Homo sapiens: one gene and its partners. The protein of the gene in region 5 interacts with the protein of the main gene of each other region in a pairwise test. Each region holds a gene or a part of one and is shown on either strand. Other genes may lie near its edges. The genes, in order: ITGB3, MYBPC2, DSCAM, ATF7IP and FLNB.

Region 1 (4,291 bases), on a different chromosome or scaffold from region 5:
GAAGATCAATCCTAGGCCTGCCACTGACTAGTCATGTGACCTCAGATACGTCATTTTGTGTCCTCACCTGTTCAACAAGGCCTTTAGATGACACAGTGTTTTCAGTCCCTTCCGGCTCTGACATTCAGCCAATTTAGCCAACACTGTGTGGGTGCATGTCTATGAGGGCTCCTTACCAAGTTGAGGGGACCAGCCAGGAAGCTGGAAAACCCCTCCCGGGACCTATTTCACAATGTCTAGGCCTTCGGGCTCTCCTCAACCCCACCCCTACCCACATCCCCAACCAGCACTTCCAAATGTCTGCTGGATAACCCACACCAATATCCCAGAACAACTAGTGTTGACATTTATTGAACACTTACTGTATGTCAGGCACTGTGGTGAGCACTTTACATGGATTATTGCAATATGCCTGACAGTTCCATAATGCTGGAACTATTATAATTTTACAAGGGAGAAACCTAAGGTTTGGAGGCTTCACAAATAAGGAACCCAATCTTACAGGTAAGGAATCTGAGGCTTGGATAAATTAAGGAATTTGCTCAAAGTTGCAGAGCTAGGAAGTGGCAGAACTGAGAGGCCAGCTAGATTGTCTGACTGTAATTATCATCATAAAATAAGCTTTACTACATTCCGTATAGAGTGAGAGTCAAGGCACGGAAAAGGAAAAGTGTGGAAGGAATGGTCCTAGGGAGGAGCCACAACAGAGAATGCCCCAGGTAGGGAACAGGATGCAAGGTGGGCATGTGCGAGGGATGGAGAAGGATGGATGACATCTGCCTCCTCAGCCCCCTCAAGCAACCTGGCAGCCATAATGCCAGAAGAGGGACTGGGCCACAAGGAGCCATTCATACTCAAAAGCCCTGTAACCGGCCGGGTGCGATGACTCATGCCTGTAATCCCAGCACTGTGGGAGGCCGACACGGGTGGATAACTTGAGCTCAGGAGTTCCGGACCACCCTGGGCCACAGGGCAAAACCCCGTCTCCACTAAAAATACAAAAATTATCTGGGCATGGTAGTGCACACCTGGAATCTCAGCTACTCAGGAGGCTGAAGTGGGAGGATCACTTGAGCCAGGGAGGCGGAGGTTGCAGTGAGCCAAGATCACACCACTGCACCCCAGTCTGGGTGACAGAGTGAGACCCCACCTCAAAACAAAAACAAAAACAAAAAAACCCTGTAACCCAAAACCCTTCCCAATGCTTAAAGTCTCTCTCCCTCTCCAGTCCGATCCCCCTTTCATGGGCTGAAGCCTTCCCCACGTGGATGGGGACACGAGCAACATCAACAGCATGAGGACTACCCTGGCCCAGGCAAGAAGTAAGTAGAGTTTCTGGAAGCCAGCAGCTTCTCTCTTTCTCTCTCATCTTCACAGGTATGCAGGCAGGGAACCAGCCTCGGCGATGGAAATCAATGAATAAGACTTAACCTTCCTGGTGGCAAATACTCCAACAGGGACATCACAGACCTTCCACAACTCTGAGGAAGATGAAAGTCTCCCGTGCACCCAGCTCTGGCTGAGGACGGAATGACCTGGGGAGAACTTGGGCACTTCAGGTTTTGTGCCCAGACTCCTCCTGTTGTCCCTGCCCACCTCTCCTACCCCTTCCTCCTCTGGAAGCAGTCTTTCTCTTGCTCAAAAAAGCCCCAATCCTATCTCTGATTCTAGCTGCCCACAAAGCCCCAGGGAGAAAACCTTCCCAAAAAGGCAGTGGATAAATCAGAATGCAGTGAGGAGCGGATCCTTTCCAGGACCAAGACAGATGCTGAAGAAGACAGCAGGGACCGGAGCCCAGCAAACTGGATGAGAGCAGCAAGGCCTTCATGCATCTTCAGGCTCCATCAGCAGAGGGAGAGAATGCATTAGACGGGAGTTTCCTGACTCCTATTTTCTAATGTGGCAGTCCTAATGAGAAGAGGGTTTGAAGCGCTAAGATGTGCTGACAGTCCTAATGGTTTGTTATGAGTTTCCTTAGAAAAATTAAACACTGAAAAACAAAACTGCCTCCCTCCCTCCCTTTGTGGTTGCTGACATCAGAGGTCAGGAATATAACAGGCCTGCTCGTCAGCCAAGCTCTCCACGAGAGCCCTCTGTTCCAGAAGAGCACCAAGGCAGTGACCTCAACATACTTGGGCAACATTCCCTTTCTTGGTAACCCAGGCTGAGAAGGTAGAAAGAATGTCTCCAGGTTATGCAGGAAGAAAGCTAGAAGGGGGAGGGGTGGATATTAAAGTTTCAGTTCCCAGGGAAACCGGATGTTACACAAAAAGGGCAAAAATAGCCAAGACCCAGGGGAAGGGCCTGAGCACAGAGGTGGGAGGTTCCAGCCAGCGCCCTGCGAGCTGGCTGAATTACCTCCCTCTCCTGGGAGGGTGACACACGCTCTTGGTACCATTCTCCATTAATCCCATTTTGGAAATTGGGAAAGTACAACATGAATAGTTGTCATTATCCTGCCTATTTCACAGGGTTGGTCAGGAAGTAAAAGAAGACTGTGAATGTGAAATGCTTTCAAAATATAAAAATCTCAACATAAGTTAACTATACTGAAATCCATTAGGACAGAGGTTCCCAACCTTTTAGGCACCAGGGACTGGTTTCAGGGAAGACAATTTTTCCATGGACAGGGAGGTGGGGATGGTTTCAGAATGAAACTGTTCCACCCCAGATCATCAGGCATTAGTTTGATCCTCATAAGGAGTGAACAACCTGGATCCCTCCCATGCCCAGTTCACAGTAGGGTTTGAGCTCCTGTGAGAATCTAATGCCACCACGGATCTGACAGAAGGTGGAGCTCAGGCGGTAATGCTCACTCACCTGCTGCTGACCTCCTGCTGTGCGGCCCAGTTCCTAACAGGCCATGGACTAGGAATTGGAGCCCCTGCTTTAGGACACAGTATAAGCAAATAAATGCAAATATAAGTGACTCTTTTTTTTTTTTTAGATGGAGTTTCGCTCTTGTTGCCCAGGCTAGAGTAGTGCAATGGCACGATCTTGGCTCACTGCAACCTCCACCTCCCGGATTCAAGCAATTCTCCTGCCTCAGCCTCCCTAGTAGCTGGGGTTACAGGCCTGCGCCACCACGCCCAGCTAATTTTGTATTTTTAGTAGAGACGGGGTTTTGCCATGTTGGTCAGGCTGGTTTCAAACTCCTGACCTCAAGTGATCTGCCCACTTTGGCCCTGCTGGGATTACAGGAGTGAGCCACCACACCTGGCAGGTGACTCTTTTTTACAGTTACCACAATAACTACTATTATTTCATACTCTTCTTGGAGAGCGAGAGTCAATATGCCCCAGTACTTTTTTTACCCCAGAGCACCACCAAAACATCTCCCATCCATTGCTGTCTTGATTAACTCATCTGGTGAGGACAAGAAATCACTTGAACATGCAAAGAGAAAAGAATGAAGAGGGCAGAAAGGAGGAGGGGAGGAACATGAAGCATTTTTGTTTATAGTTGTTGGTATTCACATTTCATTGTTTACAAGAAGAGGAGCACTCTTAATATTATACTTCCTTTTACAATAATAAATTGGAGCAAAACTCTCAAGATGAACATTTGTCCTCCAGATTAAAAATAAATAGAAAGAAGACAAGTCAGAATAAAATTATGTTTGTGATTATAAAGAAATGTAAATCATGGCCTATATCTTGCTCCTGCAGTTGCAGAGAAGAAAATGAGAAGGAAATCCTATTAGAGTCTTCCTCTACTTTGCTAGACTCAAACTCCTTCTTCCTCTGTCACCCTTGGTTGTCAGGCTAAGTGGGAAGCTGGCCCACCTTCCAGGGTGTACTCAGGCTTATATAAGAATTCCTAGTATTTCCCTCCACTGTAGGGTTGCCAAATTTAGCAAATATTTGGGACAAACTTATACTAAAAATTATTTTTTAATTCAAATTTAAGTGGATGTTCTGTAATCTAGATTTATTTTTTAGAGACAGGATCTCCCTGTGTTACCCAGGCTGGAGTGCAGTGGCTATTAGCAGACATGATCATGGTGCACTATTGCCTCAAACTCCTGGGCTCAGAGGATTCTCCCACTCCAGCCTCCTGAGTAGCTGGGACTACAGGCACCAGGCTGGATGTTCTGTATTTATCTGGCAACCTTAACTCCACCTCCATCCACCTTGACCCAACCCCAGTGGCCCTTCAATTAGCAATGTTTGCCAAACTTGCTATCATAAATATCCATTCTGATGTAACAGACCCAGGATCCATCCCGGGAAGCTTTATTTTTAACAAGCACCTCAGGCAATTCTCAACACCAAATGAGTTTGGGAGGTTC
Region 2 (3,721 bases), on a different chromosome or scaffold from region 5:
CCCTCTTAGGACACCTGGCTTCCCCTGCCATTCCAGTAAGTGCAAAGTCCCTCCCCGCCCCCTCACTCCCTAACTGCAGGCCAAGGCCTCTGAAACAAACTCTCTCTCCCCAGCCCCAAGGCGTGGAAGCCAGACTTGACCCCAAGACCTCTGAACTCTGGGGACTCTGAGTCTTCCAGCATCCTTCAAGGTCACCGAATGACCAGAGATCAAAGTACCTTGCCTCAGGGCCGGGCAGATGAGATATTAAAGTTAATAAAGGTCAGTCCATTAAGAACCAACAAGCAGGCCACGAGCGGTTTCGCCTTCGTCACCAAGTCCGCGCAGCTGCCTGGCAGGAGTTTGTCCAGTACGGCTGCCTCCCTCTTCGGTTCACCACGTCTAGCTCTTGGGGCCGCTGCCAAGGCCTAGAGGCGGCCACAGCGACACAGCTGCTTCGGTAGAGTGGCCTTCTGGGTGTGGCCTGGGTGTGTCTTTGACTCGCTGCCACTGTCGTTGCCCCTAGCCTGCACCCTCCCTCCCTCCCAGCAGCTTCTCTGGGGCCGGCCTCCCCGTGGGCTTGGGTTCACCTCTGATGCTCTGTGGTTGCTGTGACAACGTGGCTGCCTCGCTAAAGTAGCTATTCCAAGAGGCCACCTCACCGCGGCCTGTGTCGACGCAGCTGCTCCCGTCGCCAACCCCGGGGTGACCAATCCCCTGCAGGAGGAAGACGGAGCTACGGAGTCAAGAAGGACAGACACTCCAGGGTCCAGACAACACTGTTTTGTTCTCAGCGAAAACTCCAGAAAGAACACAGTCCTGGGAGGTTGGGGATTGGGGTCAGGACTCCACCACCAATTGTCTTGGCAGGTAGGGGACAGGTCTCACTGCGGCACTGCAGGAAAACGAGAAAGCGGGTGAGCCAGGCCCGGGCACGCCTCCTCCTGAAGCCCCAGGAGGAGGAGCTGCATCCACATGACCAGCAGGGGGACAGGATGACGGTCACCATCCCGCCCCATCCTAGGCCACTGTGGCTGGACAACCCAGAGTCACAGTGCTCCTGATTACTGGTATTTTGGATCCCAGATGGGGACATTCTGAGCTGCTGGCTGTACGCGGTCACTGGAATCCTGAGGCTGGGATTTTTCTGAGCTGATTTAATAGTTAATCAGGGAGACAGCAGAGTATCAGAAATTGGGTGGGCTTGGAAGGGCAGTGATCTGGGGTGTTTTTGTTTGGTTTTTGAGACAGAGTCTCACTCTGTTGCACCAGGCTGGAGTGCAGTGGTGCCATCTCAGCTCACTGCAGCCTCGGCCTCCCTGGTTCAAGTGATCCTCCTGCCCCAGCCCCCCAGGTAGCTGGGACAACAGGCATGTGCCACCAGGCCCGGCTAAATTTTTTTGTATTTTTAGTAGAGACAGGGTTTCGCCATGTTGCCCAGGCTGGTCTTGAACTCCTGGGCTCAAGCAACTCGCCTGCCTTGGCCTCCCAATGTGCTGGGATTACAGGCGAGAGCCACCGTGCTTGGCTAGAAAGTGTCCTCTCTGAGCCTTTGTTAAGGGTCCCCAGCCACCCTGTCTGCTGGGCTGTCCTCAGAGCCAGGGAAGTCAGAGGTCAGAAGTCACCATCCGGGAGGGACTCTGGAAGTCCACATTGATGTCATCCTGCTCTGAGGGACACGGTTAGTGGCCTCCTCGCTGAGCCTTGACTGGCAGACATCTGATGGGCCGGAGCCCAGGGTAAAGGAGCGGGGGAATTGTGTTCCAGGAAGAGGGAAGAGCATGTGCCAAGTCCCTGTGGCAGGAAAGCCTGGCCAGTGTAACTGCCAACAGCCCGGTGTGGCTGGGACATCATGTGGGAAGAACCGGGGTGGACACACCACCGTGAACACCAGGCGGAGGGGCGCTGGGGCGGTGGGGAGTCCCCAGCGGGCTGGGATCAGGGCTGGGGCAGAGCAGCTCTGGATAGAGAGAGCTCTCTGGGGCCAGAGTCCAAGGGTGAAAGTGGCTGGCAGGAGGGAGAGACTGGAGACGGAGGCGGCTGGAAATGGAATATGGGAGGAAGAGGATGTAGCTTTCGCTGGGGCTGGAGCTGTGGGACCGAGATGAGGGACGGGGCAGGGAGAGGCAGGGGCAGGTGGGTGGGAGCATGGGGACAGGCTATGGAGGGAGGCACTCTTGGGAGCTCCCGCCACCCCTGGTCATCCGTGTTATCCATATTTGCTCTCACTCTGTCAACCCATCTGCCTACGGGGGCCCAGGTACACTGGAGGCCTTGGGGACGTTTCCTAAGCCCTTCTCACTCAGCCTTCCTCTTCCTTGTCCTTCAACTCCTTTGGAAAAATCTGACTCCTTCCCAAGCTGGGTCAGGGGCTCCCCAACCCCAACTCCTAGGATGCCCTGTGCTGCCTTCAGGACAGCAGCTTCCCAGTCCTCCTCCCAGAGGGCTGGTCTCACTCGTCTCCAGATCTCAGCGGTGCTCAGCCCGGGGCCACCGGCCAGGCTGGCACAGGGCCCGAGCAAGGGTCAGCCAGTGTTGGGGATGGCCACGCCCTCACCTCGGACCTCCAGCTTGCACTCAGCCAGCGCCTCGCCCAGCTCGTTGACGGCCCGGCAGGTGTAAGTCCCAGCGTCGAAGGGCGAGGGGCGACGGATGTTCAGCGTCAGGACTCCTTGGTAATTGGTTATCAGGAACTTGGGATCTTCACGGATTTCCATCTTGTTCTTCATCCAGACCACCTTCGGCTGTTGAGAGTCAAGGGAGAGGAGGCCAACTTAGAGAGAGACCCTGGGCAATGATGACAAAATGGGGCTCAGGAAGCCGATCTGGGTTCTAGGCTCTGCCACCCTCTTGCCAGATGTTCTTGGACGAGTCACTTCTCCCTGACCCTCAGTCTCCTCTTATGTAAAAGCAGGTTGATAATCCCACTTCACAGGGTAACGGTGGGGTCTTCCCATTGCTCTCAGGACAAAGAGCTCACTGTTTGTAGTGGCCCACAGGGTCCCACACTCTTTGACCCCCATTACTTCTCTGCTCCAGCCAAACAGGCTACCTCACTGTCCTTCAAACAGACCAGACAGGCACCCACCTCAGGACGCTGGCACTGGCTGTTCCCTCTTCCATAGTGCCCTTCCCTTTTTTTTTTTTTTTTGAGACAGAATCTCGCTTTGTCTCCCAGGCTGGAGTGCAGTGGCGTGATCTTGGCTCACTGTAACCTCCACCTCCCGGGTTTAAGCAATTATCCTGCCTCAGCTTCCCAAGTGGTTGGGATTAGAGGCGCCTGCCACCATGCCTGGCTAGTTTTTGTATTTTTAGTAGAGATGGGGTTTCACCATGTTGGCCAGGCTGGTCTCAAACTCCTGACCTCAGGTGATCTGCCCGCCTCGGCCTCCCAAAGTGCTGGGATTACAGGTGTGAGCCACCGTGTCTGGCCCAGCCCTTCATAATTTTATATTATTTATGTGACTCTGGGCAAATGTCAGTCTCCCCCAACATACAGGAAATTTCTTGTTCGAATCACCCAGGTCATTGAAAGCCTCTGAAAATGTTTGTTGTAAGAATAAATGGAGTGAATAAATGAATGAGAGCACGAAACAGTGCTGTAAATAAGCAAATGGAGTGAAGGAATGAACTGAGTAAATGGATGGATTGGTAGGTGGATAAATGAGTGGAATGAGTGACATGAATGAGTGGAGTTAGTGAATACAGTATACAGAGATGGAGACATGGTATGCCTTAAGGA
Region 3 (4,291 bases), on a different chromosome or scaffold from region 5:
AATTCCATTTCTTTCTTAAAAGAATGGCTACCTAAAAACGATGGTTATGCGGTCTTTTCTATTTGTCAAACAATTTCTTACAGATAAATGAGCCCATCACTCCTACAATTACAATTGATGGTGTTTATTATAAATAATAAAATTGAATCTTTCAAGAAAGAATAGAATTTTAGAAAACTTGCATCCATCAGCATGAACTTGACAGTTTACTTGAAGACTTTCTGATGAGATCATGGTAATGTTAGTAGTTGTGATATTTTGATATTGTATAACAAATTGTATCAACATTTGGAAGATCTGTGTAACACAGTGAACCAATCATTTCCAAATGATCAACTTTTTATGTTACAAAATCATGTGTGGGTAAAACATTCCTTCCAAGGGTATGATAGACCAATGAATTTTAAGATGACAGAGTACAGAAAATGTGTTGATATGGCATCTGACTATTGCAATGAACCATTAAGATACTGCCATGTTTTAATTCTCTGCATAGTATGGAGTACCATTAGGTGTTTTCTGGTTTATTCACTTGTTTTATTTGTTTATTGTTTGTCTCTCCTGACTGAGAAGAGAGTCAATGAAGGAAAGGACCTTGCAGACCTTTTTCATTGTTGTATTCCTCAGTGTCTAGAGTAGTGCCTGGCATGAAGCAGATGTTCTGTAAATGAGGATTAAATAAATAAACACAACCACCAAATGAACCTTTATGCAGCCTGGTTTACCAAGAATATCTAGTGATTTGAGGAAATTCTCAAGACATATGGTTATTAAAAACCGATTTATAATTATGTGCAGGCATATCTAATATACAATGCACAATACATATTCTATAATATATAATGTAATGCAATATATATGCCCCGTAATAATAGTATACACATATTATTATTTCCATGTGTGTGTGTCTGTATGCGTTCTCACAAAAGTAAAACTCACAGGGTTGGTGGGAAAAGAAGCTTGGGGAAGACCACAGGAAACCTATGCAACTTTGTAACAAGGGCAACTAAAAGCCACTTATTGGTTCCTGGAGAGAGAACTTGGACACCTCAGACAGGCAGCTCAATGTGGCTAGAAGCAACACCCACAGGTTTCGGAAATAGTTTTATAACATATTAGTTCTATTCCTAGGACCCACCTCAGGTAGATTCCTTACATAATTAAAACAATTTTATTTCATATTCAGCTCAGGAAACTGACTTGTAGAATAGAAGAAATGAGTCTTTCTGAGGCTCTGCCACTAAAAGTCTGCGTATCCTTGGATGAGTCTGATCACCTTATTGTTTTTTTCTGGTAAGGAGATTGTAGTCAATTCAAATTGCAGGATCTCTAAAGATCATCCTGACAGGTAGATTCCATGACAGTCCATGTCATGATGCAAAGAATAATTTAATGAGGAAAACGTTCTGTGGCATCCTTTAAACATATAATTTCTATGTTGTTGCTTTGACCTGCTCATCTACAGAAGATAAGACGTTTGTTTGAAATCCTCATCCAATACAGAAAATCCCTTCCAGTGAAGTTCTAAGAGACCTTGCTTTTAGGAGGTTTTAGGAAAAGAAGGTTATTTATTTAAAAATTATCTGAGAGATGACTAGATAATGAAGCTAATGATGTGCTCCTTTTTTTTCTGTTGTATTGTTAACAACACATGCCCTCTGGAAAACCAAGCCAAAATTCCACCTGGAGAGAAAATCAGATCAACTAAAGTTCCTGTGAAGATTCAGTCAGTAGTAAAGAGGACATCTCATGTTCCCTGTCATTCTTCAGCCTGTACAATTATCCTGCTCTAAATAAGCAGATCTTGGATTACCCGACTTCAAATCATTGGTCTGGGAAGTAGTCGGGCTATGGAATGAGTTGTGTGGGAACCAGGAGAACAGGGCTTACCTTTCACGGTCACGTGGACGCTCTGGCTGGTGGAGAGTTGTGGTTGAACCAACACGTTGCACGTGTACTCCCCCTCGTCCACTTCCTTTTGCACATCTGAAAGTTTAAGAGTTCCATTGTTCTCAAATGCCACTTGGCGGTGGTTGAAAGGAAGCAGGTTAGAGTTCTTGTACCATTTAATGGAGTAATACGGATAGCCAATCACACGACAGTGAATGTATGTGTCCCGTCCTGCTATTGCTGTGATGTTTTTCATTGGTCGAATGCTTGCAGGCCCTGGAGAGACACAAAGAAACTCTTGAAAATAATTTAAGGGTACATCTCATGTAGGGAAATGGGTACACTTTTCCTTGAGTTAAAAATGTAGATTATATTCATGTAAGCACATCTTTTTCAGTTAAACAAATATTTTTGCATGTGGCATTTTCTACAACAAAGGTTTTTCTTTCCTTTTCTTAAATTCAAATGTATAACTGTGAAACACTTTATCTGCTACTTCTATGAAAATGTTTTGAATTAAAAATTACAAGATAAAAGGCAATTTAATTAATAGAAAGTAACTAGTCTATACTGGACAATCACGCACTTTTGGTGAACACACTGGCAGCAATTGATCAATTGTTTAACTCTCTCTGTAAAATCTAGGACGACAATGGAGGTTACATCACGTTGCAGCATGAATGTAAGTTTAATACCATGTACATGAAGGTTTACCATGAATGTGGAAGAACCGAAGAGAAGGAGAAGGGAAAGGGCATGCAGAGCATAAACCAGGAAAGGAAACATCAGGTGAACAGATCTAGAGTAAAAAAGAACAAGCTGACTACAGAAACCAAAATGCCATTTCCAACATTAACCCAGTCAGTGCCATTCCTGAGTAGGAAGGAGAGGGTAGGAAATGGGAAGCAACAGTTAATCCGCTCTGGCATTCCAAGACCCAGCTCGGTGCATGCAGAAATCTTCTTCTCCACTATAATGAGTTATGTGTGTTTTTTTGAGGAGCTGATTTGACAAGCACCTCTTACGTTTATTCGAGCCTGGTACAGGACGACTCCCGCCGAGTTGTTGGCAGTGCAGCGGTAGACTCCCCCGTCCCGGACCTGGGAGCTGGAGATGTTCAGGTAGCTGACCACGTTCCCCTCCGACGTGATCATCTGGCTGATGCGGTGACTGCCACCCTTGAGAATCGGGTCATCGTCCAGGGTCCACGTGATCGTGGGCAAAGGTGTTCCCTTCACGTTGCACATAAGGGAAACCGGCTCTGCTGGACTCACCACCTTTTCACTAAAGGCAGAAATAATTTTGGGAGTTCCATCTGCAGGAAAACAAATTATGGAAGAAAGTGGCACATACAAATAATTAAACAACTTCCAAGTATATGTCTTTCATGTCTAGGGGGTAAATGTCGTAGTTGTTAAACATTACCAAAAAGGTCTGGTTTTCCTGATAAAGCAAAACGTTAATCAGAACAAGAGTTCACTGTTTTCAAAACAGGTAAGCACAGTGTTAGCAAGCTTTCATCAACTGTTTCTATATTTCCTGATTGACTTAAGAGGAATGGTAATACAACTCAGATGTTCAGGTTAAACAATGACAGCTCCTAAGAAGTCCTTAATTTAAAACTGGTGTTTCCTCACACAAAGTTATAAACAGACGGAAAATCCACACCCGCTCACTCCCACAAACAGTCACTTTATCTGTTAGGTTGGTGCAAAAGTGATTGCAAAAAGTAATGGCAAAAACAGCAATTACTTTTGCACCAACCTAATACTTCCTCAAGTTATTTGGGGTTTTCTCACTAGGGAATTCTTTACAGGAATAAAGGAAACTACTGAGAGATTGATGACCTCATCTTCATCATTTTCTCATAAGAAATCCTCTTTTAATAACTTTAATTACAAATAGTAATTGCATGCAAACTTCCATGAAGTCTCTGAGAATGGGTAGAAGCTAAATAAAGTTTGTATTAAATGCCGTGTATTAAAAACCTCTAAAGATATCTTAAGTAGGGTACTTAAGCATGTTTTAAATCTCTCTAAAAGTATCTTAAGTAGGCTGGCCATATAATTTAACATCCAACCTGGGACACTTTTGAGGCTGAAACAGAAAGGACTAATAATTATGCCAAGAGAACAGGCATGACCCAGAACTATCGCAGGCAAACTAGGATCTTAATCTTAGAGAAGTCTCCATAGAAATTTTCAGTATGTTTACATAGATCAAATTTTCATATTCCATTATTTTTCTATCATCCATATGGTTTTTTCTCTTATATAGTAATAGTTACAAATGCATGTTTCTTTTATATATGTTTTTCCATTTATAAAAAGAAATACATGCATATTAAAGGAAATGTATGAAAATCAGAAGAAAAGTTACCAATAGGTCAGCCAGCCTCAGG
Region 4 (4,291 bases), on a different chromosome or scaffold from region 5:
TCCCCTGGTGATGCCACCTCTGGTGATGCCACTGCTGATGATCTCTCCTCTGGTGATCCCACCTCTAGTGATCCCATCCCAGGTGAACCGGTCCCTGTTGAACCCATTTCTGGTGATTGTGCCGCTGATGATATAGCCTCTAGTGAAATAACTTCTGTTGATCTGGCTTCTGGAGCACCAGCTTCCACTGATCCAGCCTCTGATGATCTGGCCTCTGGTGATCTATCCTCTAGTGAACTGGCCTCTGATGATCTGGCCACTGGTGAACTGGCCTCTGATGAGCTGACTTCTGAATCAACCTTTGATCGTACCTTTGAACCAAAGTCTGTACCAGTTTGTGAACCAGTTCCTGAAATTGACAATATAGAACCAAGTAGCAATAAAGATGATGATTTTCTTGAAAAAAATGGAGCTGATGAAAAATTAGAGCAAATTCAGAGTAAAGACTCATTGGATGAGAAAAATAAAGCTGATAATAATATTGATGCTAATGAAGAAACTCTAGAAACAGATGATACAACTATTTGTTCAGATCGACCTCCTGAAAATGAAAAGAAGGTAGAGGAAGATATTATCACAGAGCTTGCTCTTGGAGAAGATGCTATATCTAGCAGTATGGAAATTGACCAAGGTGAAAAGAATGAAGATGAAACTTCTGCAGATCTTGTAGAAACGATTAATGAAAATGTTATTGAAGATAACAAAAGTGAGAATATCTTAGAAAATACAGACTCTATGGAGACAGATGAAATCATTCCTATTTTGGAAAAGCTTGCACCTTCTGAGGATGAACTTACTTGCTTTTCTAAAACATCTCTCCTTCCAATCGATGAGACAAATCCAGATTTGGAAGAGAAAATGGAAAGTTCTTTTGGTTCACCATCTAAACAAGAAAGTAGTGAGAGTTTGCCAAAAGAAGCCTTTCTGGTCCTCTCTGATGAAGAGGATATTTCGGGTGAAAAAGATGAGTCTGAAGTTATATCGCAAAATGAAACGTGCTCTCCAGGTTAGCATATAACTTAAATGTTAAAGATTTTTTATTGACTTTGATGAACTGTTTAATAAAACATTATCATAATGTTTTAAATTTATTTTAGCTGCAGAGAAAGTTGAGAATGGTGATGACTCTATAGAAAGATGTCTTAACTTCATAGAATTCAGAATTAGTGTGTGTACTCTGTGAGTAGCATTGTACTAAATACTAAGAAGGGAGATAAAATAAGTAGAAAATATGCCCTTATAGTCTGGAAATAGAGATGAAGTAGAGCACCATAACACTGAGATAACAGTTTAAGTTAGTACATAATTGACTAGAGTTGTAGCAGTTCTTTCTTGCTATCACTTAGCGAACAAATAACTTAGAACTAAAAGCCTAATAGTTTAATCTATTTGCTTCAAGTGTAACAAATTATATTTTCAATTAATATTCCCAATGAAATCCTGTTCTTTAATATTCTTTGTCCAGGAATGACAGCACCATTGTTGTAAGCCAGAAACCTTAAAGCTTGATTATCCATTTGATAAAGACTTTACCCATTTGCTCCCTCAGCCCTTTTGATTCTACCCAACCTATTCTCTTCCTCATTTTCTGAATGAGCTCCCTGTAACCCAATTCTCTTATTTGATATTGTCCGTCTATGTCTTAGATCTCTGTTACTTTTAGGTTGATTTCAAACTCCTTATGTAAAAGGTACATTAACTTTATGATTTGTTCAGTACCTATCTCTCCCATCTCTTTTATTTTATTTATTATTCCTAGAGAAAAAGAATGAGAAAAATTCTACCTTCTTTTATGGTCAAACTGAAAAACATTATTCCTCTATGAAACTTTCTAAGCCTGTGGAAGACTGAGAAAAGCATGAATACCTTTCTTTTCCCATTATATCACATTCTTTTAGATTTAGACATCTCTGAGAGAAGTGACCTTGCTAGCATAAAACACCATCTAATTTCTTCAAAGAAAAAAAAATGGAGGCAGGTCTAAGAGACAGAGACAACTTTTTTCCCCAATATATCATACCAGCTTTTGGAGGTAGAGATTTTTTTCTTATTAAAAAATGGCTTTTTTTTTTTTTTTGGCCAGGTAAGGTGGCTCACACCTATAATCCTAGGACTTTGGGAGGCTGAGGCAGGCAGATTGCTTGAGCTCAGGAGTTCGAGACCAGCCTGGGCAACATGGTGAGACCCCGTCTCTACAAAAGTACAAAAATTAGCCAGGCGTGGTGGCACTTGTCTGTAGTCCAGGGTACTTGAGGGCCTGAGGTAGGGGGATCACTTGAACCTGGGTGGTCGAGGCTGCAGTGAGCCGAGATCGCGCCACTACTCCAGCCTGGGTGACAAAGTAAGACCCTGCCTCAAAAAAAAAAAAAAAAAAAAAAAAAAAGGATGGCTTTTTATTTTCAAAGAGCATTCAACTAAACCTATATAAAGAGACAGGCCAGGCCCTTCTTGGTTCTAGAGATTTGAAGATAGTATTTGCCCTCAGGATACACACAAGAATTAAATCATAGGCCATTAAATACAAGACTGTGAGTACAGTGATAATGTTAAATTGGCATTCTGGGAGTGCAGATTAAGGTAACTTTATTAGAGCACCAGATGTATTAGGGATGTCTTGCCCCTTTTAATATCTGTATAACAGAGGTTTTTTTTGTTTGCTTGTTTTTGTTTTGTGAGACAGAGTCTTGCTCTGTTGCCCAGGCTGGAGTACAGTGGCACAATCATAGCTCACTGCAGCTTCCACTTTACTGGCTTAGGTGATCCTCCCACCTAAGCCCCCAGAGTACCTGGGAATACAGACATGTGCCACCACACTTGGCAAAATTTTAATTTTTTTGTAGAGACAGGGTCTTGCTATATTGGCTCTGCTGTAACATAGGGTTTTAATGAGTCTAATTCTTTTTTTTTTTTTCCGAGATGGAGTCTCGCTCTGTTGCCCCGGCTGGAGTGCAGTGGCACGATCTTGGCTCACTGCAACCTCCGCCTCCCGGGTTCAAGTGATTCTCCTCCCCACTCCGCCTCCTGCGTAGCTGGGATTATAGGTGCGCGACACCACGCCTGGCTAATTTTTGTATTTTTAGTAGAGTCGGGGTTTCATCATGTTGGTCAGGCTGGTCTCAAACTCCTGACCTCGTGATCCTCCTGCCTCAGCCTCCCAAAGTGCTGGGATTACAAGCGTGAGCCACCGCGTCTGGCCAAGTCTAATTCCTTTTAATGGCAGCTCCATCCTACTTGCTGAGGCCAGAAACTTTGGAACCATTTTTATTTTTTCTTTCACACCCCATAATTAGTCCATCAGGAAATTCTGTTGGTACTACTATCATAATAGATCTAGAGTCCAATTCACAACTGTTATTACTCCTGCTGCGAGTCACCATCATCAGGCCAAAACGGTGCCTGGCACACAGTAAGTGCCCAGTAAATATTTGTAAAGTGAATGAATAATCAATAATGTAAGAGAAGCATATCATGGAGGACCTTGGTTATAATGCTAAAGCTTTATGATGGCGCTGGAATGCCAATAAAGAACTTCAAGCAGAGAGGAGAATGAAATTTACATTTTGGAAAGGTAATAGGTGACAGTGTTGAGAATGAATTTCATCCATTTCCTATAAGTGTCTATACAGAGTGTGGCACTAGGCCAAGTCCATAAAAAAGCCTTATAAGTCCTTTAAAAAAAAAAAGTCTGTATAAGAAAGTTAAAAAAGCAAATTGCAGCTTATGATTTAATGAGTACCTTTATGTCAGAATCTTGATATTGGAGGGCATCCCACACAAGGCAGTTAAGTGCTGAGAGATGAATATTAAGCCATCCATGTTGCATACTTTGAAAATTCAAAGTTGGGAATATTTTTGGTTACTTGCCTTTAATCTGATGGTATGCTATTAGCAGGGTAAATTTAGTGATAGATTTAATTTCTTGGCTCATAACTAAACTTTTATTTTGTATCTTTTCCCCTTCCTCTGAAGGTAATTTTGTGTATTTTGAGTTTAAGAATAGTTTCTTAATTGGTTCTTAAACTGTACTCTGTTCTCTTTATATGGCGACAGAATCTGTTGCATGTCATTTATGTTGCTGTACTCCTGTTGAAATGTTACTTAAATAAATGCCTTTATTCTTGACTAATTTTTAATATACTCAGAACACAGAATTATTAGCTGAAGTACTAAAGTTGGCTTCAGTACTGGCTCTTCCTTCTAGCTACTAACATCTATGAGTGTAGTAAAAGGAAAATAGCATAACCTTCTGTCATTTCAGGCACTTGTTGAGCAAATATGTTTTAAATAAAGC
Region 5 (4,291 bases):
TAGGATCCCACCCCCATACAACTAGGATCTGGCTTTCTGGGCAAATGGATGAGTCTGGCCTTGGCTGACAAGGCCAAGGACCCTCCCAATCCCCCCACCCCCTACCCACCAAAGATGTGCCTGTGGAATTCACATCTTTCTATTGACATAAAATAGTCTATGTATAAGCAGTGTAAAAGTTTGGGATGACATATAATGAAATATCAAAAAATGATTCTGTGGATGAGAAAGGATGATTTTTCTATCTGAATTTTCTAATTTTCCTGCGATGAACCTACATTCTTTATGTAACAGTGAATCATGACGTGTGGAAGGGATTTACTACAGTGTTTATGGTGGTTACCTTGGGTGGTGGCTGTGAAGTGGTTTTCATAGTTTGGTATTTTTTCCAGTGTTTTGGAGGAGACACATTTTTATAAGTATAGGAAAACTTTTTGATTATTTTTCAAGTGAAAATTAGAAATCAGGGGATTTTTCAGACCCTGATCTAAACAAATACGTAAGATTTCAATATGTATTCTTTCCTGTTAGAGATAGAAAACCACCTAACATCCTAACATGCTTTCTCAACTTCTGCACGGCTCCACTCTGTGGACTTTTGTAAGTTTCAAACACTGCCCTCTGACATCTCATACTATTTACTGACATTCAAAGTTCAAAGTAGCTTTAACACATCTAAAACCATCCATAGTTTCCACTATGATTGATCTGACACAACCAGCTCCCCAGGAAGGGAGAGTAACTCCGAAGGTGGTTGTTCGTTACCTGTCACCTTGGCCTTGAAGGGACTGCCCACGATGTGGTTGGGCCCACCGTATTTGACGCTGATCAGGTAGTTACCAGGAGCCATGGGGGTGTACATGACTTTGTACCCTTCAGGTGTTTCCTGGCAATCCATTTTAACCTTGGATGGGCCTTCGATGGTGACGGATAATGTCCCTGGACCTGCTCGGGTGGTGTTAATAAAGAATTCCGACTGGATACCTGGGAGAAAGGAATAGAAAATGCTGTGTTGATGACTTGGAGGGCTTTCCTGGGAGCACTGAGGCCGTGGTGAGGGACACACATAGATCCCCTTACAGAGGGCTCACCCTGGTGGCATGGGAACCCACTGGCACTAGCTCTGAACTTCTGGCAGAGAGAACCTCAGGCCCTGCGGGGTGGGGGCTCCCTTTTCTAGGCCAAGGCAGGAGGAGCATGGCTGACATTTCGCCCACAAGCACCAACAGCCTGGACACCCTGTTCTCTCCTCTGGGCATGAGCCATTGTGGCTGAGGGCAAGAAGCCTGAGTCACACTGTGAGCCTGAAGTGCTGCTTCAGCCACCAGAGTCCAGCTCTCCCTCCAGGGGTGTGGGGGAGGCGTGGGCCCCTCTGACTGTCCTTTCTTCTCCGGGTAGACTTGGAGAAGCCAGGGAGGCCAAGCATCTCCTCCCTTCCTCCTCAGCCCTCACCCCAGGCACTGTGCTGCAGACCGGGTGCAGCCACTGTGACCTGCCAGCCCACCCACTTTGCCGTGAATTCCAGCAACAAGCACAGGAACAGAACAGCAGCTCCCGCTGACGGGGCATGCGTACCCCACTCCGGCTCCAGGTCCTGTGCACAGCACCATTTACGCATGTGGTATGGAATCCTTTCCGTGATTCCTGCTTCACAAATGACTCTGCGGCTCAGGGAGGGGGCCAGTCACGCTACACAACCAGAAAGTGGTAGAGCCGGGTTTGAACCATGTCTGCATGGCTCTGGTGCCAGGCTCATCTCTTGACCCCTGGATGGGCAGTGGAGCTGCCTCAGATCCCCTAACTGCAGCCCTGAGACAACTTAGCTGGCCCAGGGAGAGCCTCCTTCAGTCATCAGGTCTGGCGCATGCCTGCTACAGTGCCCTCTATGGGGCATGCCTGGCATAGCATCCCCATGCAGGGCTATGCTTCTGCCAGAGCCCTAGACACTGCCCCAGCTGGGAAATATTTTGGTTTAATTATAGCTCCTAGTCCAGAGAAAGAATTATTGTTCTGGATATCAATAAAAACAAAAGAGCTGCTATCGTGCAACTCTCAAACACAACCCAGCTGTTCCTGGAAGCTCTTGAGGCTCCTGCCCCAAGGTCCACCCCCAACACTATCTCAACCTCATCATGGTATCTAATCTGTGCAGCCAAGAAGCCCCTCAAGCAGCAGCTCTGAGGCCTGGGGCTACGTAGGGAAGAAGCGGGAGGTGAGCAACAAGGAGACAGTGTGTCCATCCAGGAAGCAGCTGTAAGGTGATGATAAGGAAAGATATTTTATTGATTGATTGATTGAGATAGAGTCTCGCTCTGTTGCCCAGGCTGGAGTGCAGTACCATGATCTTGGCTTATTGCAACCTCCGCCTCCCAGGTTCAAGCGATTCTCCTGCTTCAGCTTCCTGATTAGCTGGGATTACAGGCACTCGCCACCATGCCCAGCTAATTTTTGTATTTCTTTAGTAGAGATGGGGTCTCACCATGTTGGCCAGGCTGGTCTTGAGCTCCTGACCTCAAGTGATCTGCCCACCTTGGTCTCCCAAAGTGCTAGGATTACAGGCATGAGCCAACGCACCCGGCCTTATTACTAATATTTTTTTTTTTAGATAAAGTCTTCCTCTGTTGCCCAGGCTGGAGTACGGTGGCATGATCACAGCTCACCACAGCGTCAATCTTCCAGGCTCAAGCCATCCTCCTGCCTCAGCCTCCAAAGTAGCTGGGACTTCAGGCATGCACCACCACGCCTGGCTAATTTTTAAATTTTTTTGTAGAGATGGGGTTTTGCTGTGTTGCCTGGGCTGGTCTCAAACTCCTAGGCTCAAGTGATCCTCCCACCTCCACCTCCCAAAGTGCTGGGATTACAGGTGTGAGCCACTGTGCCAGGCCAAAAAGATATTTTTAAAGTGAAGTTGAAATGATGTGGCTGCAGGGGAAAGTTCCACCATTTTTTAACAAGCTGTTTCATTCCTAAGTTCGTCTTTAAAAATTTTTTTTTTTGGTAGAGATGGAGTTTTACTATGTCACCCAGGCTGGTCTCAAACTCTTGGCCTCAAACAATCTTTCTGCCTTGGCCTTCCAAAGTGCTTTGATTACAGGCATGAGCCACCGCACCCATTTGGCCCTAATGCAATATTTTGACCAACCAAAAATCAGTTCATCTTGACTGTGAGGGCCCAAAAGGGCAGGGAAGACGAGGTGGGAAAAGAGAAAGCAGGGGTTATGGGACAAGAGCTACTACTTGGCTGTTACCTCCTCTACAGCTCCAAACAAGCCTATTAGGTGGGTCCTGTTATTAATCCTGTTTTACAGGAAAGGAAGCAGAGGCACAGTGAAGTCAGATAATTCATCTGGAGTCACACAGCTGGGGACCAGCAGAACTGGGATTTAAACATAAAGTCTGTCCAACTTGGAGCTAAAGCACTTACCTGAGAGAAGATGGAAGGAAAAAAATCCACAAGCAGAAGTCTCTCACCACTGCCTCTAGCTATAACCTGTATCTGACACCACAAAACATCTCTGGGCGTGGCGGTCTTCCCCCACCCCCTCAAATATGTCCAGCTCAGTTCCTGTGAGTTTAATGCATGTTAAACGCAGCACTGCTTGTTCTTCAAGGCAGTTAAGGAAGGAGGCCCTTCTGGTATACCCCGAGCACACTGGGGTTCCTGGACCATTTCATTAGGAAAATTGCTCAGCGGCTCCAAAGAATCTGGAGCTCCCTGGTCTATCTCCCAGCCTCTCAAGCCGCCTCCAGCAGGGTCCCGCCCCAAATTCTCCACATTCCCCTACTCCAAAATCTACAGAATGGACCATTTAAAGCTTGAGCCAAGAGATACAGCAAACTCACCCATTAAAAACAGAGGGAGGTTTGCTTTGTTCAGAAGGTCAGGATACTGGGCGCTCTGGCGGCCAAGCACAGATACCTTTTCATTCCATGCACACTGCAGCTGTGTAATCTCAGAATGGATATTTAGGGAAAGGCTTGGGAGCAGGAGGGCTGGAAAAACAAGGCGCCTTCCCTGTGACAAGAGCAATATTTACACAGGGTTTGAAGCAGGCGGTTCTGTACCTCTCCCCTCCTGGCTAGGAGCTTCCCTGCAAGAGCAACTCCTTCTCTCAGCAGCGTCCAGCACTTGCAGAGCACAGCCTGAAACCCAAGCTCCCAAAAAGGTGTGCGAACAGCCAAAAGGAAATGGGAGAGGGCCCAGGCACAGCGGCATGAGCCAGCAGGAGGGTGAGATGCTTCCTGGCCAGTGTGGGAGACCCCAGCAGCTGCTGTGAGGCCTGGCCTGAAG

What was found.
Region 1: the proteins of FLNB (region 5) and ITGB3 interact in a two-hybrid assay, tested with the Homo sapiens proteins (one study listed by BioGRID).
Region 2: the proteins of FLNB (region 5) and MYBPC2 interact in a two-hybrid assay, tested with the Homo sapiens proteins (one large-scale study listed by BioGRID and IntAct).
Region 3: the proteins of FLNB (region 5) and DSCAM interact in a two-hybrid assay, tested with the Homo sapiens proteins (one large-scale study listed by BioGRID and IntAct).
Region 4: the proteins of FLNB (region 5) and ATF7IP interact in a two-hybrid assay, tested with the Homo sapiens proteins (one large-scale study listed by IntAct).

Annotation. Positions count from the first base shown.
Region 1 is NC_000017.11:47,277,237-47,281,527, reverse strand, and holds part of ITGB3 (integrin beta-3 precursor), read right to left. Parts: intron 2,004-4,291; exon of another isoform or gene 1,672-2,003; intron 1,560-1,671; exon of another isoform or gene 1,266-1,559; intron 1-1,265. UniProt on the Homo sapiens protein: Integrin alpha-V/beta-3 (ITGAV:ITGB3) is a receptor for cytotactin, fibronectin, laminin, matrix metalloproteinase-2, osteopontin, osteomodulin, prothrombin, thrombospondin, vitronectin and von Willebrand factor.
Region 2 is NC_000019.10:50,463,348-50,467,068, reverse strand, and holds the end of MYBPC2 (myosin-binding protein C, fast-type), read right to left. Parts: intron 2,724-3,721; coding exon 2,537-2,723; intron 875-2,536; coding exon 864-874; 3' UTR 748-863; downstream 1-747. UniProt on the Homo sapiens protein: Thick filament-associated protein located in the crossbridge region of vertebrate striated muscle a bands. In vitro it binds MHC, F-actin and native thin filaments, and modifies the activity of actin-activated myosin ATPase.
Region 3 is NC_000021.9:40,336,211-40,340,501, forward strand, and holds part of DSCAM (cell adhesion molecule DSCAM isoform CHD2-42 precursor), read right to left. Parts: intron 3,206-4,291; coding exon 2,909-3,205; intron 2,167-2,908; coding exon 1,891-2,166; intron 1-1,890. UniProt on the Homo sapiens protein: Cell adhesion molecule that plays a role in neuronal self-avoidance. Promotes repulsion between specific neuronal processes of either the same cell or the same subtype of cells.
Region 4 is NC_000012.12:14,424,468-14,428,758, forward strand, and holds part of ATF7IP (activating transcription factor 7-interacting protein 1), read left to right. Parts: coding exon 1-1,006; intron 1,007-4,291. UniProt on the Homo sapiens protein: Recruiter that couples transcriptional factors to general transcription apparatus and thereby modulates transcription regulation and chromatin formation. Can both act as an activator or a repressor depending on the context.
Region 5 is NC_000003.12:58,165,133-58,169,423, reverse strand, and holds part of FLNB (filamin-B), read right to left. Parts: exon of another isoform or gene 3,309-4,291; intron 985-3,308; coding exon 766-984; intron 1-765. UniProt on the Homo sapiens protein: Connects cell membrane constituents to the actin cytoskeleton. May promote orthogonal branching of actin filaments and links actin filaments to membrane glycoproteins. Anchors various transmembrane proteins to the actin cytoskeleton.